Homo sapiens: one gene and its partners. The protein of the gene in region 1 purifies or fractionates together with the protein of each later gene. This does not show direct contact. Each region holds a gene or a part of one and is shown in the gene's direction. Other genes may lie near its edges.

What was found.
Region 2: the proteins of REPS1 (region 1) and TRIM11 purify together in Homo sapiens (affinity purification with mass spectrometry; one large-scale study listed by BioGRID and IntAct). This does not show direct contact.
Region 3: the proteins of REPS1 (region 1) and SGF29 purify together in Homo sapiens (affinity purification with mass spectrometry; 3 studies listed by BioGRID and IntAct, with this or other methods). This does not show direct contact.
Region 4: the proteins of REPS1 (region 1) and AP2A1 purify together in Homo sapiens (co-immunoprecipitation; 2 studies listed by BioGRID and IntAct, with this or other methods). This does not show direct contact.

The regions. Positions count from the first base shown.
Region 1 is NC_000006.12:138,946,535-138,950,615, reverse strand, and holds part of REPS1 (ralBP1-associated Eps domain-containing protein 1), read left to right. Parts: intron 1-2,702; coding exon 2,703-2,826; intron 2,827-4,081. UniProt on the Homo sapiens protein: May coordinate the cellular actions of activated EGF receptors and Ral-GTPases.
Region 2 is NC_000001.11:228,396,836-228,400,625, reverse strand, and holds part of TRIM11 (E3 ubiquitin-protein ligase TRIM11), read left to right. Parts: intron 1-3,460; coding exon 3,461-3,483; intron 3,484-3,516; exon of another isoform or gene 3,517-3,578; coding exon 3,579-3,679; exon of another isoform or gene 3,680-3,790.
Region 3 is NC_000016.10:28,560,130-28,563,919, forward strand, and holds part of SGF29 (SAGA-associated factor 29), read left to right. Parts: intron 1-3,790. UniProt on the Homo sapiens protein: Chromatin reader component of some histone acetyltransferase (HAT) SAGA-type complexes like the TFTC-HAT, ATAC or STAGA complexes.
Region 4 is NC_000019.10:49,780,211-49,784,000, forward strand, and holds part of AP2A1 (AP-2 complex subunit alpha-1), read left to right. Parts: intron 1-194; exon of another isoform or gene 195-382; coding exon of another isoform or gene 383-500; intron 501-1,546; coding exon 1,547-1,615; intron 1,616-1,736; coding exon 1,737-1,879; intron 1,880-2,320; coding exon 2,321-2,514; intron 2,515-3,790.

The DNA.
Region 1 (4,081 bases):
AGGACTAGCATACAAAACGGTAACATAAGGAGCCCAGAAATAAGCACATATAAATATAGCAGTTGCTTTTCAAGTTAATGGAGAAAAGATGAGTTTTTAAATAAATGGTTAACTTATTCTTTTTTTTTGCGGGGGGAGACAGAGTCTTGCTCTGTTGCCCAGGCTTGAGTGAAGTAAAACCATCATAGCTTACTGCAGCCTTGAACTCCTAGGCAAAAGTGATCCTCCCACTTCAGCCTCCTGAGTAGTTGGGACTATAGGCATGTGCCACCACATCCAGTTAATTTTTAACTAAATTTTTTTTCGTATAGATGAGATCTCACCATGTTGCCAGGGCTGGTCTTGAACTCCTGGCCTCAAGCAGTCCTCCTACCTTGGCCTCCCAGAGTGTTGCAATTACAGGCATGAACCACTGCTCCTGGCCTCAATAGTTAACTATTGAGGAGGATCAAAAGGATATCTGATTTGTTTCTCATTCCAAAATAAATTCCAGTTTGGTCAGACTTGTATATTTTCAATATTAATCATAAACATTCTAGAAGAAAACATGTATAAAGACCTTTTTTCTAAGTCTAGCAAACCCAAAAGTCCTAAAGGGGAAATGACAAGCTTGTATAAAAATTGGAAAATTCTGTATCACCAAAACAGCTTTTTTGGAAAAAACAGATAAACTAGAAAACAACATGTGCAATATGATCTGGTTTCTGCCTAAGTCATCAGCTCCATCTGCTGCATTCCCTCCTCCCCATCAATTCTACACACACTTACAGCTACACTCTGGTCTTTCCTTCCTGAGGATGCTCAGTAAATAGTCATTGAATAAATGAATTAATTCCATGACAGTTTGCAGGTCAATATGTATAATATAATAAAACCTTTTTTTTTTTTATGAGATGGAGTTTCAGTCTGTCACCCAGTCTGGAGGGCAGTGGCATGATCTCGGCTCACTGCAACCTCCATCTCCCGAGTTCAAATGATCCTCTCACCTCAGCCCCCCGAGTACTTAGAATTACCAGTGCGCACCACCACACCTGGCTAACTTTTGTATTTTTAGTAGACATGGGTTTCACCGTGTTGGCCAGACTGGTCTTGAACTCTTGATCCCAAGTAATCTGCCCTCCTTGGCCTCCCAAAGTGCTGTGATTACAGGCATGAGCCACTACCCCTGGCCACAATAAAACTTCTTAAAATGAGTAAAGAAGATTAACAGTCCATTTAAAGTTGCCAGAGAACAAGTTGGGCAAGTCAGGAAAAGAAATGCAAATGGCTAACAAATATAAAACTTTTAATAAATACCAATTAAAACAGCATTGAGATTCTGTTTCCCTTCTTGAACACTACCTCCTCATTTCTAACCATTTCCCTGGTGTCTTCCCAAAATGTCAACAAACCATACTGTGATCTCCTTTTAGGTCTTCCCTCTGTCTAGCATATACCTGGCATATGTTAGTTGCATTGTTATATAAACAAAAGTATTTAAGATATGTAATGAACCTCTAAGAGGCGTCAAGTGGGCAGAAGAGTAGAGGATTGGGGCTGCATGACCTTGCCTTTTTAAACTCCCCTTTTCCTCATAGTTCCCTTGATGGTGTTAACCTGCCTGTTTATTCTCTTTGCCCTTTTACATTTCTTCAGAAGGACATGCTCCTTAGTGGCAGGAACAGGAACTTCTTCCAGTGCTGGTCAGCCAGCAAAAATGACTCTTTTTTGTGTATGTAAATAAATGGCTGTTATTGTTGTGATACAATTGCTTAATCATTAATAGGTCCTTTTTTTGAAGTCCTGTGAATAGTTTTATTCAGACTTAATACCACAGCATCTCAGATACCTTATCTTCCTTTGAGTGTTATGGAAAAATAGACTAAAACTGCTCTCTCTATACAAAAGTTTGTGTTATTTGAAAAGATACAACAGGCATGCCTAGTGTTTATTTTAAGATAAGATTATAATATCTGCATAGTAGAAACCTCCAGCTTTTAGAGTTATGATTTTGTAATCTGAAATCCTATTTTTTGAGTCTAATATTTACTTGTGCTAGCAAGTCTAGAAATACTTGTTGAAAGACTGGAATGATTAATGTAGATCCTTGAACACTTTCATGCTCTAAAAAAGACAAATTTTGTTTGTTTTAAAGAAGAGTAGTGTAGCCATATTAAACACATTTGGAAAATAAGAGGGAAAACCCGACTCAATCTCATCTGAAAAAATTGTGATAGACTTTTAAAAAATAGTTTCCAAATTTGTATTTATGTGGTTAAAATTAGGTATCTTGCCTTTCTTCCCCACTTGATAAATCCTTAGTATTTTTCCATGTTGTTATATCATTTAAAGACCGTCACTTTAAATGGCTGCATAATAGTCTCTTAGTCACATGGTCCTATTGTATGTGCAGTGCTTATGAATAAGAGTGGGTGGTACGTTGTTTCTTTAAAAATGTGACTCATAACAAAAATTTATTCTAAGAAAATTGCTAATCATATGGATTTTGATAAATAGGAGAATGATGACCTTATTGCAAAGCAGTGACTTTTTGTTTGTAAACATATGAACCTGAAACTTGAGGAAGTTGGTTGTCAGTTGTGAGTATTATACCATCTATTAGATAGATATTTTGAGACGTTACAAACAAGTTGGGTAGCTGCTTATTTTTGAAGGGAGATTTTTGTTGTGAATCTTAATGTTAACATTATGTTATTTTATAGATCATGGAGCTTTGTGGTGCAACAAGACTTGGTTATTTTGGAAGAAGTCAGTTCTACATTGCTTTGAAACTTGTAGCTGTTGCCCAGTCTGGTTTCCCTTTAAGAGTGGAAAGTATAAATACAGGTAAATATAGAGTACACTAGTAACCGAAAGAAAATAGGCTTCTATTACAAATGAAGTCAAGTCAATAGAACTCTTGTGTCTTTCTGATCTTATAGTGGCATTTGTGACCTTGAGTGAAGTGTCGTGACTTTATTCCCACTACCTTGCATTTCTCACTTGAAAATACTAGAAAAATATGTCTGACCTGTATTACGGCATAGTATATGTACTTCATCTGTATTTGACTATATGTACTGTTCAAATGGCAATTTTTTAAGAATTAATTTACCAAAAGTTGTTTAGAAATATTTTAGGCGAATAGTTTTATTAAGGTAAATGATAAATTACAGCGACCATCTTCATGTATAGCGTCCCTGTGTTCTTCATTTCCAATAAAACAACATTATACTTTGTATTTTTGTTTGTTTGTTTGTTTGGGAAGGCTGTGGAGGCTTCAGTTGAAATTAAGAAGTAACAGTTAACCTAAACTTTTTGATCGATAAGAGACAATATTAAAATATTGGCAGACTAAAATCTAGTTATAGACATCTGACCACATTACAAGTTTGTATTAGTCCATTTTAACACTGCTATAAAGAAATCCCTGAGACTGGGTAATGTATAAACAAGAGAGGTTTAATTGACTCACTTCTGCATAGCTCGGGAGGCCACAGGAAACCTACAATCGTGGCAGAACGTAAATGGAAAGCAAGGCACATCTTATGTGGCCACAGGAGAGAGAGAGAGAGAGAGAGAGAGAGAGAGAGAGAGAGAGCAAGGGGGAATAGCCACAGACATTTAAACCATCAGATCTCATGAGAACTTGCTCACTATCACAAGAGCAGCATGGGGGAACCGCCCCCATGATCTAATCACCTCCCATGTGGGAATTACAATTCAAGATGAGATTTGGGTGGGAACACAGAGTCAAACCATATCGAAGTGTTACATCAGATAATTTGTTTTTCAAGTATTTAGAGGCTTGTTGATGTGAAAGAAGATAGAAATTCTATAAAGAAAGGCACTTAAATGCAGAGGGTTCTTTCATTTTCATAGAGTAAAGGGGAAAGAGAAAAATTAAGATTTTAAAAATAATCTGTACAGAAAAATTTCTGTAAAATTCTGTAAATATCAGAATTTGTAGAAATAGTTTTAAGTACCAGTTTAGTTTATTGGTCGGTAGAGGTTTTCATTGTGGACCTCTAGTTTGCCACACATCATTCTTCTAGTGTTGGGAGTTTACATTCTTTTCAGGTAATTTTGAATTCTTTTACAT
Region 2 (3,790 bases), on another chromosome or scaffold:
CGCTGGGACCACCTTGGGCCTCCCATAGGATTCCTGCCATGGTGTCCCCAGCAGGAAGTCCTCGCCCTTCACTCTGTCTTCACCCCGCTGGCACACCCCATGCATCTCCATTATGGGGGGCAGTCTCCTCCTCCTCTGCTTCCAGGAGAGTCTTTTCCCATGTGTGGGCTCCACTCCCTGAGCCGGCCCCCTGGGCCTGGGCTTTCCTTGGTGCACCCCCAAACCAGAACCAGTGGACGCCCTGGCCTGTGGCCTGGCGGCAGGTCAGGGGGCCTGGAGTCAGCTCTCTCCGCTTGGCAAGCGTGCACTGATGAGGACTGACGGCACTCCCATGCTGAGAGGCCCCGTGTGGGCTGGGAGTGTCTGCTATCATCTTCCCGTGGGGTTCAGCTGGATGTTTTTCCCACAAAATGGAGAACGTGTTCCATGCCCAGCATGGTGTAGACTCAAGGGGCCCCAAGATTCAGAGGGAAATGGGCCCCTGGGCAATTCTGGCTCCCACAGAGGAGAGAGGCCGTGTGTGAGTGAATTCAGCCACTGGTGGGGCAGGGCTGCCAGACCCAGGTGGAGCCCACAATGCTGCAGATGTGGCTGGGCGGCTTTGCACAGGGGGTGACCTGCTGCCGGCCTCTGGAGCCCAGCAGAACATCAGTCCAGGCACCGGCTCCTGGTTTCGATTGTCATTTCTATTGTAAGCTTTTTTCTGTTTTTTTGTTTTTTGTTTTTTTTTTTTTGTTTTTTTTTTTGTAGATTTAAGGGGTACAAGTGCAGTCAGAGTGTAGCCATCACCCGAATGGTGCACACTGTACCCAGTAGGTAGTTTCCCCCACCTCCAAGTCTGCAGCATCTGCTCCTCCACTCCGTGTGCCGCGTGCACCAGCTTGGACATCAGCTGGCTTTGAGCCTGGGAAGCGGGAAGGACGCTCGGCTAGCGTCTGTAGAAAGACTGAGGAATATTAGGAGAGGGTCCTGTGGTCAGTAAATTGTGGGGTGGGGAGGTACCCAGAAGACTGAGGAGGAGCCCTCAGGGAGGGCAGAGAGGACAGGTGTTGGAGAAGCCAGGAAGGGTTTAGAAGGAAGGTGAGTTGACCTGGAAATGGGGACCCACAGGGTTTGTGTGAAGATGCAATTTGGGCTTTCAGCTGAGACATTGTGGCATGTGGGCGGGTGGGTGGGTGTTGGGTCTCATACACCCACCTGCATTCACCCCGCTGAGTGGCCCACCCGTCCATGCCTTGGCCAAGCTCCCTGCCCAGGTTTGGCCTGGCTACAAGGCTTCAGGGAGGTCCCTCCTGTCCCCCCAACCTGCCAGCACATGGCCTGCATGCTGTGGGGGTCTGCCCACATGGGGGTTGCAGGAGAGCAGCCTCAGCAGCTCTGTGTTGATGTGAGCTGTGTGCTGGTTTGAGAGGGACAGGTGGGGATGGCTTTGCACCCTTGGCCCCCGGTTGGGTAGGGGAACCCAACCCGGGTTCCCAGCACCCAGGCCGAATGGACAGGGGTTGCACAGTGGAGGTAAAGGCTTGAGTGACTCCCAGGAATCCACCCACTGGGGCTCTGGCTGCTGTGGACTCTGGGGCCCTGGCTGCTATGGACTCTGGGGTCCTGGCTGCCCCCTTCAGCAGGCCCTGCTTGTAGCCGCAGAGTGGTTTTGTTCAAGTCAATGCTGCCCCTGGAGGGCCCGTGTTCTGTGCAGAGACCAAACCCCCTTGTCGAGGCCAAGGTTCTCCTCTACCCCCAAGCCCTTCTCCTGCCGCCCCTGCACCCGGCCTTGTGACAGCCACCACCTGTTTCCAAATGACACCAGGGGTGGGCCGCCCACCCCAGGTAGAATAACCAAGGTGGAGCTGCTCCCAGCTGCCTTGCTCACACCAGCACCATCTGCCCCTGCCCTGTGCACACCCCTCCCTCACCCTGCGCACTCCCCCTGTGTCTACCAACAAATTCTTCTTGGGCTTCAGAACCCTACCAAGAGTCTCCTCTTTATTTATTTATTTATGAATTATTTATTGAGACAGGGTCTCACTCTGTCGCCCAGGCTAGAGTACAGTGATGTGATTATGACTGCAGCCTCGATGTCCTGGGCTGAAGCGATCCTTCCATCTCAGTCCCCTGAGTAGGTGGGACTGTAGGCACACACCACCAAGCTCAGCTAATTTTAAAATTTTTTTTTAGAGATGGGACCTTGCTGTGTTGCCCAGGCTGGTCTTGAACTCCTGGACTCAAGTGATCTGCCTGCCTTGGCCTCCCAAAGTGCTGGCCTCCTTTTTAAAAAATTTTTGGGGCCTAGAGTGTGTTGTTGTCCCCCTAGACAGAATTAACTACCCGTATGTGTGGAAATCTTCCTTTGCCATTTCTCCTACATGTAGGGAAACCCTTGTCTGGGATTATGTCTTACTGACCTCTGCATCCTGGCCTGGTAGCTGGCACCACGTGTGTTAGAATGAACATGGTGTGGGATCGTCTATTTGACAGTGTGGGTTAAATCCTTGCAGTGCACTGAAGACTGCTCTAAGAGATACAAGACCGTGTCTCCTAAGAGCTGATGTTCCAATACCTGGGTGTATCACGCCAGCTCGGGCTGCCACATTTAGTACCACCTGCCAGGAGGCTTCCCCAGCAGAGACTGATTGTCTCCCAGTCCTGCACACTGGAAGACTGAGGTCAAAGCTGGTTCCCCCTGAGGCCTATCTCTTGGGCCTGTAGATGCCTTTTCTTCCCTGTATCCTCACAGGGTCTCCCCTCTGTGGGTGTCTGTGTCCTAGTCGCCCCTTCTTATGAGACTCAAGTTATTTTGGATTGCAGCCCACCCTAATGGCCTCATTTTACTATGATTTCCTCTTTAAAAGCCCTTTTTTCTAATAGTCAAGTTCTGAAGTCCTGAAGTTTCTGGCTTCAACATACGGATTTGGCGGGATGGACACAATTCGGGCCCTAACATGGAGTCAGATGCTATCACGTATCAGGCAGTGACACAGGAAGGACGCACGCCCAAGAGTGGGGCTGAGCAGGGAGCCTGCAGGGCAGGTGGAGCTGGGAGAGGAAGCAGTGCAACCACAGGGTTGGGCTCCAGCTGGGGTGGAGGTGCCCCTATGCTGAAGGCTGGGATGTGTGCCTGTCCTGTCCTTGGCACCCAGAGGCGCCCACTTGGGGCTCTGGGTGAGTGAGCCAACAGCCAGATGCCCTACATCCAAGTGTCAGGCAGAAGTGGGCCTTGGTCCGCAGGGCTGGGCTGCACCCCATTGGTGATGCCTCCTGGCACACATGTCAGAGCCTCTGTCCAGCATTCCTGTGTCTGAGCCTTGCTGCGGGTGGTTTATGGCCCCCTGTGTGTGTTTTTGCTGCCTGACGCTCAAATGTAGGAGAGGGGGACGGGGCGAGGCTCCAGGGGCGGGGAGGGGACTCCAGGAGCAAGCGATGGTCACTGACACCGAGTGTGCTGTTTCTCCTCCCCACATAGGACATCAAGGACGCCCTGCGCAGGTACGAACCCAGCCTCTCCTGGAGGGGGGGCAGGAGGGAGTGGGGTGGGACCCAGCTGTTGGCCATGGCGACAACACCTGGGTTGTCCCCTCTAGGGTCCAGGATGTGAAGCTGCAGCCCCCAGAAGTTGTGCCTATGGAGCTGAGGACCGTGTGCAGGGTCCCGGGACTGGTAGAGACACTGCGGAGGTTTCGAGGTAGGTGTGGAGGCCCCAGGTGGGGAGATGACTCCAGGAGGGGACCTGCCAAGGACCTGGGCAGCCAGCCACGTGTTCTGTGCCCTGCCACTGCCAGCTCCAAACTCACAG
Region 3 (3,790 bases), on another chromosome or scaffold:
CTAAGGCACAAGAATTGTTTGAACCCAGGAAGTGGAGGTTGAGCTGAGATCGTGCCACCACTCCAGCCTGGGCAACAGAGCAAGACTCTGACTCAAAAAAAAAAACCACGAAAATTTTAAAATATATTTTTACAAAACAGGAAAATATGATCTGTGTTCACAAAAAAAGGCAATGAATGGGCCCGGCACAGTGGCTCACGCCTGTAATCCCAGCACTTTGGGAGGCTGAGGTGGGTGGATCACGAGGTCAGGAGTTCGAGACCAGCCTGACCAACATGGTGAAACCCCATCTCTACTAAAAATACTAAAATTAGCTGGACGTGGTGGCGCACACCTGTAATCCCAGCTACTCAGGAAGCTGAGGCAGGAGAATTGCTTCAACCTGGGAGGAAGAGGTTGCAGTGAGCCGAGGTTACACCATTGCACTCCAGCCTGGGCAACAGAGCGAGACTCTGTCTCAAGAAAAAAAAAAAAAAGAACGAAAATTTTAAAATATATTTTTACAAAACAGGAAAATATGATCTGTGTTTACAAAAAAAGGCAATGAACGGGCCCGGCGCAGTGGCTCACGCCGGTAATCCCAGCACTTTGGGAGGCCAAGGCAGGCGGATCACGAGGTCAGCAGATCGAGACCATCCTGGCTAACATGGTGAAACCCCGTCTCTGCTAAAAATACAAAAAATTAGCTGGGCGTGGTGGCGGGTGCCTGTAGTCCCAGCTACTTGGGAGGCTGAGGCAGGAGAATGGCGTGAACCTGGGAGGCGGAGCTTGCAGTGAGCTGAGATCGCACCACTGCACTCCAGCCTGGGTGACAGAGCAAGACTCTGTCTCAAAAAAAAAAAAAAAAGGCAATCAACGAAGATCAACCCCAAGAGGACCCAGATGTTGGTATCAACTGACAAGAATTCTAAAAGAGAATCAAAATAATTAGTTAAAATAAATTTTTTTAAAAATTTAAAGCAGTTATTAAAACTTCGTCAGGCCAGGTGTGGTGGCTCACACCTATAATCCCAACAATTTGGGAGGCTGAGTCGGGAGGATCGCCTGAGCCCAGGAGTTAAAGACCAGCCTGGGCAACATAGTGAGACCCCATCTCTACAAAAAGTTTAAAAATTAGCTGGACAGGCACAGTGGCTCACGCCTGTAATCCCAGTACTTTTTGGGAGGCTGAGGCAGGCAGATCACCTGAGGTCAAGAGTTGGAGACCAGCCTGGCCAACATGGTTAAACCCTGTCTCTACTAAAAATACAAAAATTAGCTGGGTGCGGTAGCTGGCACCTGCAATCCCAGCTACCTGGGAGGCTGATGCAGGAGAATTGCTTGAAACTTGGAGGTGGAGATTGCAGTGAGCCAAGATCGCACCACTGCACTCCAGCCTGGGCAACAGAGCAAGACTCCGTCTCTAAAAACAAAAAACAAAAAAACACAAAAGGTGCAGGGGAAAGAAAGAAAGAAAAGATGTGGCCTTCTAAGTCAGTGGGAACACGAGCATGCTAGGAGTCAAAAAGTTTAGGGTACTGGGCGTTACCTCAGCATTCCTAAGAATGCTTGAAACCTTGCTGGAATTGCTGAGCCTCTCAGGGTTTGGGACAGTTTTGTTTACATGATAGAATTGTGATAAGATTAGCTGGCACCCTCGGACTCTGATAAAACCAGCCACTTGGCCTGGAAGTGCAGTGTCCCCTCATCTGGCCTTCCAATTCATTATGGTTCCAACCCCAGGGCCTCATTCCCACTTGCTTTGCACCAGCAGGCTTGGCATTTGTTCTCAGAAGGTCACAGAAACCTTTGCTTCTACTTAGAACATGTTTCCTGGGGAAGTTTAGACTTATGACTGACCAGATCCAGAGATAGCAGCACTTTGATGTAAAATCATAGGAAGAGCTTGTTCTCTCAGACAAGCCACTACCCAGTAGGCAAAGCTCAAACGAGAGCCCTTAAATGGTGTGGTCTTTGGCCAGGCCATCATCGTGGGGTTATTCCTAGGTTTGGCAAGCGTCAGCATTTCTTTTGCTTGTGCGATTGGCTCTTTTGCTCAGTGTAACAGCAGACCCCTGGCCTCCAGATGAGAAGGGCCACTAGCGTTCACTAAGTGCATGCTCTGGGCCGGCCACTGCCTAGGACCTTTCTTAGATAGTTGATCATCAAGTAGGTGCTCTTGTTTTAATTTTATTGAGACCCAGAAAGGTTAAATAATTCATCCAGGGTGAGTGTGAGGCTTTATGAGAACTTTACAGTTGTTCTCTCCCTTCCCCCTCCTTGGACTATTCCTGGAACATGAAGGTCCAGTTCCTTTCCCTGATGGCTGTATGGCAGGTGGCGTACTTCATTTCTTTGTGGGAAATTATACTTGTATTGATGCTGGGCATGCTGCTCGCCTCTTCAGTGTTTTCCCAAGTAAGGTCTGACAAATGGGGATCCAAGCCCTCCTGTATTTCAGGCTTTATTTTGGGTACCAAGATGCAAAGACAATCCATTAAGACAGTTCTTGGCCGCTCATGGTGACTCATGCCTGTCATCCCAGCACTTTAAGGAGGCTGAGGCGGGAGGATTGCCTGCGCCCAGGAGTTTGAGATCATCCTGGGCAACAAGGCAAGACCTCATCTCTACAAAAATATTTAAAAATTAGCTGGGTGTGATGGTACATGCCTATAGTCTCAGCTACTTGGGAGGCTGAGGTGGGAGGATCACTTGAGCCTGGGAGGTGCAGGCTACAGGGAGCCGAGATTGGGCCACTGCACTCCAGCTTGGGTGACAGAGTGAGACCCTGTCTCAAAAAAAAAAAAAAAAAAAAAAAAGACTTAGTTCTTCTACTTTTAAGGGGCTTGAAGTCTGAGTAGAAGACTCTTCCACACATAGAAAGCAGTCTTAAAAGGGTGTGTGTGCTCTGATTGTGGTTATATAACATTTACAGAAGGTGGATACAGAATGAAAATCACTTGAGGTTGTTGGGATTTGCTTTAAAACATCCTTTAATGTTGCATTTTTCTTTCACCTTAATTAGGGGAAAAAGGGAGATAATTGGAAACAGGGGTGACCAGAGTGCTCTGGGGAGGCAGAGGTTCTGTAATAACTGTTGGTAGCCAAGGAGGCCACAAAGAAGAGAGGATGTTTGCGTGGTAAGAGTGTGTTGCCATTCGCCAGATACGTGCCAGAGGCAAGGGACATCAAGGCAGTGGGCACAGTTAGATGGTCCACTTTGAAAGTTCGTGGCTGATGGGATCCAGGGATAGCAAGAGCTTATTGTGAAATTACAAAATGAGGTGGTTCTGCCAGGCTAGGCACTACCCAGTAGGCACAGTGATCTTCCAGACCACGTGGTCAGCTCTCTCCCTGAAAGTTTCAACCTCTGTGTGTTGTGTGTCTATCTGTGTGTCTTTGTCAGCAAAAGCTTTTATGAGATACACACCATTTTTTCTTGTTATATGTACATGGGATATCTTTAAAGGAATACCCAAGAAACAACTAGTTGCCTGTAGCGATAGGAGATTTCGTTGTATTTCAAAAATAATCTGAATTTTTTTACTACGTGCATATATTGTTTACTCAGTTTTGTGTGTGTGTGTGTTTTTCTAGAGAAACAGACTTTTTTTTTTTTTTTTTTTTTTTGAGACAGAGTCTTGCTCTGTCACCCAGGCTGGAGTGCAGTGGCGTAATCTCGGCTCACTGCAACCTCCACCTCCTGGGTTCAAGCGATTCTCCTGCCTCAGCCTCCTGAGTAGCTGGGACTGCAGGTGTTCCTGAGTAGCTGGGACTACAGGCGCACACCACCACACCTGGCTAATTTTTG
Region 4 (3,790 bases), on another chromosome or scaffold:
GTTCGACAGTGGAGAGAAATAAAATTGTGACATGGTGAAATGTACCAGAGAGGACTTCTTGAAAAATAACTCTTTAAGCAGAATAATAAAGAATTGACTTTAAGGAAGTGAAACGGAACGGCCTTTCAGGGGTGGCAGGAGCCGAGACCCAAATGATGGGAAGATGACAGGGGAGGGGTGGCCCCAGGAAGAGGGCACAGCTTGTGTGAAGGCCCTTGAGGCAAGAGGATGTGCGTGTTCCCGGAGCAAAATGGAGGCCAGGGGGCCTGGATGGACAGTAGGGGTCTGAGGGGTGACACCGGCAGGGTTGCTGTGACAGGGGCAGAGGACTTGATGGGCCGTGGAGTGGAGCACCCCCAGCTGGCATCACAGAGCCCAGGATATGGAAACACGAGGGAGGCAAGAAGGCTGGAGGGGAGGCTGCTTCACTGACCTGAGCGAGCGAGCATGGGATCTGGATGAAGTGGTCATCGTGGAGGTGCTCAAGACATGTTCTGAAGGTCAAGTTAGGAGGAGGTGGCTGGGCACAGTGGCTCATACCTGTAATCCCAGCATTTTGGGAGGCTGAGGTGGGAGGATCGCTGGATCCCAGGAGTTTAAGGTCACAGTGAGCTATGATTGCACCACTGCACTGCAGCCTGGGCGACAGTCTAAGACCCTGTCTCAAAAATTAAAAGGACGAGGCAGTAGCCCGATTGGCGTGAGGATGTCCAGGTTCTGTTTGGAGGAGAAGAGGGAACGGTAGAACCTGTCAAGGGAGGGATGAAGTCTGGGGTGAGTGGAACAGGGACAGGAGAAGCAGAGAGGGCAGCCGAGAGCATCCAGTCGGATTGTGCTCTGAAGGGGGTGCTGTAGGGCATTGAGGAGCATGGAGGAAGCAGAGACCTGGCCTGCAGGATCAGGGGAGGCTTTCTGTGCTTATTCCACAAGCAGGTCCTGTCAGAGGTGTAGGAATGTCCCAGACAAATTGGGGAGAGGTTGGCAGCCAGAGAACAGGAGGCAGTGGGGACAGGCCACGCGGGAGAGGACAAAGCCATGGCTGTGGGGACAAAGGGGGTGAGGACAGCACCCAAGGGTCTGACCTGGTGACTGGGTGGACAGTGGGACCTTCATGGGATTGAGAACTGGAAGAGGCAGTGAGCTCAGTGGTAGGGGTGAGCACCCTGCGGCCAGCCAAGCTCTTTATTCATTCATTCATTCATCACATGTTCATCGCATGTGGGGAGTGGGGACAGGAGCTCTCAGGGAGCGTGTCTGGGGCCCTGAGGAGCCCCACAAATCAGGGGCCACAGTGGTAGGAGGAAGGAGAGAGGAAGTCAGGGACAGCCCAAGGGTGTGTGCTCTGTGCTGTGGGGCTCAGCCAGCGGTGGTTCTTCCCTCTTTGAAACTCCCAGCCAGAGAAGGGGTCCTGGCCTGTCCTGAGCCCCAGGGCTTGGGGGCGGAGAAGATCTGCCCTTCCTGCTGGGTGGGGCCGCGCCTAGGAAAGAGAGGGCAGGTGGCTGACTCCCCAGACCCCTCACTGCCTACCCTCCTCCTCCTCTCCCAGGTAAGAGCAAAGAGGCGGAAATTAAGAGAATCAACAAGGAACTGGCCAACATCCGCTCCAAGTTCAAAGGTAGGCTGGGGGCCCAACTTCTGGTTCTGAGGGAGGAGGGGGCTGGGAGCTGGGGCTCCTGTGACCTATCCTGTGACCCTTCCTTATTTCTGGCTCCCCTTTCCTCCTTCCTCTGCCCTAGGAGACAAAGCCTTGGATGGCTACAGTAAGAAAAAATATGTGTGTAAACTGCTTTTCATCTTCCTGCTTGGCCATGACATTGACTTTGGGCACATGGAGGCTGTGAATCTGTTGAGTTCCAATAAATACACAGAGAAGCAAATAGTGAGTCTGGAGAGGGGGGTGCCAGGGCCTGGACTCCTGGGTCTGCGGGGGAGGGGGCTGGAGGTCTGGACTCCTGGATCTGGGGGAGGAGGGGGTCTAGGGGTCTGGACTCCTGGGTATGAGGGAGGAGGGGGTCTGGGGCTCTGGACTGCTGGGTCTGAGGGAGGAGGGGGCTGGGGGTCTGGACTCCCCATTCTGAGGGAGGAGGGCTGGAAGCCCAGACTCCTGGGTCTGAGGGTTGAATCTGGGGCCTGGACTCGTGGGTCTGAGGGAGGAGGGGCCTGGGGGCCTGGACTTGTGGGTCTGAGGGAGGAGGGGCCTGGGGGCCTGGACTCCTGGGTCTGAGGTTGAATCTGGGGCCTGGACTCCTGGGTCTGAGGGTTGGATCTGGGGCCACTCAGTCACAAGGCTCCTAGCCATCCACGACCTCCCTCCCCACAGGGTTACCTGTTCATTTCTGTGCTGGTGAACTCGAACTCGGAGCTGATCCGCCTCATCAACAACGCCATCAAGAATGACCTGGCCAGCCGCAACCCCACCTTCATGTGCCTGGCCCTGCACTGCATCGCCAACGTGGGCAGCCGGGAGATGGGCGAGGCCTTTGCCGCTGACATCCCCCGCATCCTGGTGGCCGGGTAAGGCACTGGGGACCCGTTGGCAGTGGGGGGCCTGGGGGTGATGAGTCCCAGCCAAGTGTGAGGCTCAGAGAGGCTCTGTTGCCTGCCCAAGGTCTCCCAGCCGAGATGTGGGCTAACGCTGGGCTGGGGACCCAGTGGTTCCGGTGGCAGCCCCATACTTGTCTCTTCCCGTGATACGAAGCTGACTTGATGGTGTGAGGCTGCTCCCGGCAAAGCCAGTGGGGTGTTTCTGAACTGCAGAATTCTAACACCTACGATAAGAGGCGTAACTGTGCTATGTGGGTGACGGCCCTCCAGAACTTCCTCATCTTCTCCATTCATTCACCAAACATTTACTGAGCACATACTATGTGCCAGGCACTGTGCTGATTGCTGGGGATGTTGTATTGTCCAGAGATGGACACGGTCATTGCCCTCCTGTGTTCATGGTCTGGAGCAGGAGACAAATGGTGATGGAAGAATTGCAGGATGAAGTGTAGAATTTGCCAGGTGCGATGGCTCATGTAATCGCTGCATTTGGGGAGGCTGAGGCAGGTAGATTGCTTGAGTCTAGGAGTTTGAGACCAGCCTGGGCAACATGGCAAAATCCCAATCTCTACTAAAAATACCAAAAATTGCCAGGGCATGGTGGCGTGCACCTATAGTCCCAGCTACTCGGGAAGCTGAGGTGGGAGGATCTCCTGAGCTGGGGAGGCCTAGGCTGCAATGAGTTGTGGTTGCGCCAGTGTACTCCAGCTTGGTGTGCACACAGGTGAGACTTCTATTTCTGGCAGTGTGGTCAGCTAGATACCCGACTCATGTTCTCCCTGAAACCTAACTGTCAATATTGGATAAAAGAGGAAAGACAATATTATTTAATGGATTCATGAGGTAGCCAGAAAATGAGGAGCACACAGGCCACAAGCTAAGAGAAGCCGGGCACCCAAGCAGATGAGCCGCGTGCTGGAGCCAGCATTTGCTTAGAAGGCATTTGCTGAACTGGGTGAACCCGAGTATCGGTTTTGGGGCCCTGCAGCCTCTGGGAACAGAAGACAAAGCTTGTCCGAGAAGTTCTCGAAGGCTGTACTTCAAAGTGAGAGTGACCTAGAAATAAACCCCCTTGGGGACTATGAGGAAAATTACCTGTCTGAAACGTTGGCACGGAGCAGCCCTCAGACTGGTTTTCAGCCTGACTTTACCCTATCTGGGTAGTCCAAAAGCCCCTAAGTCAACCTTTAGTTTAAAGTGATGGAAACTGGAGGTTCCCTAGTGCTTCACAGAAGCAAACACGAGC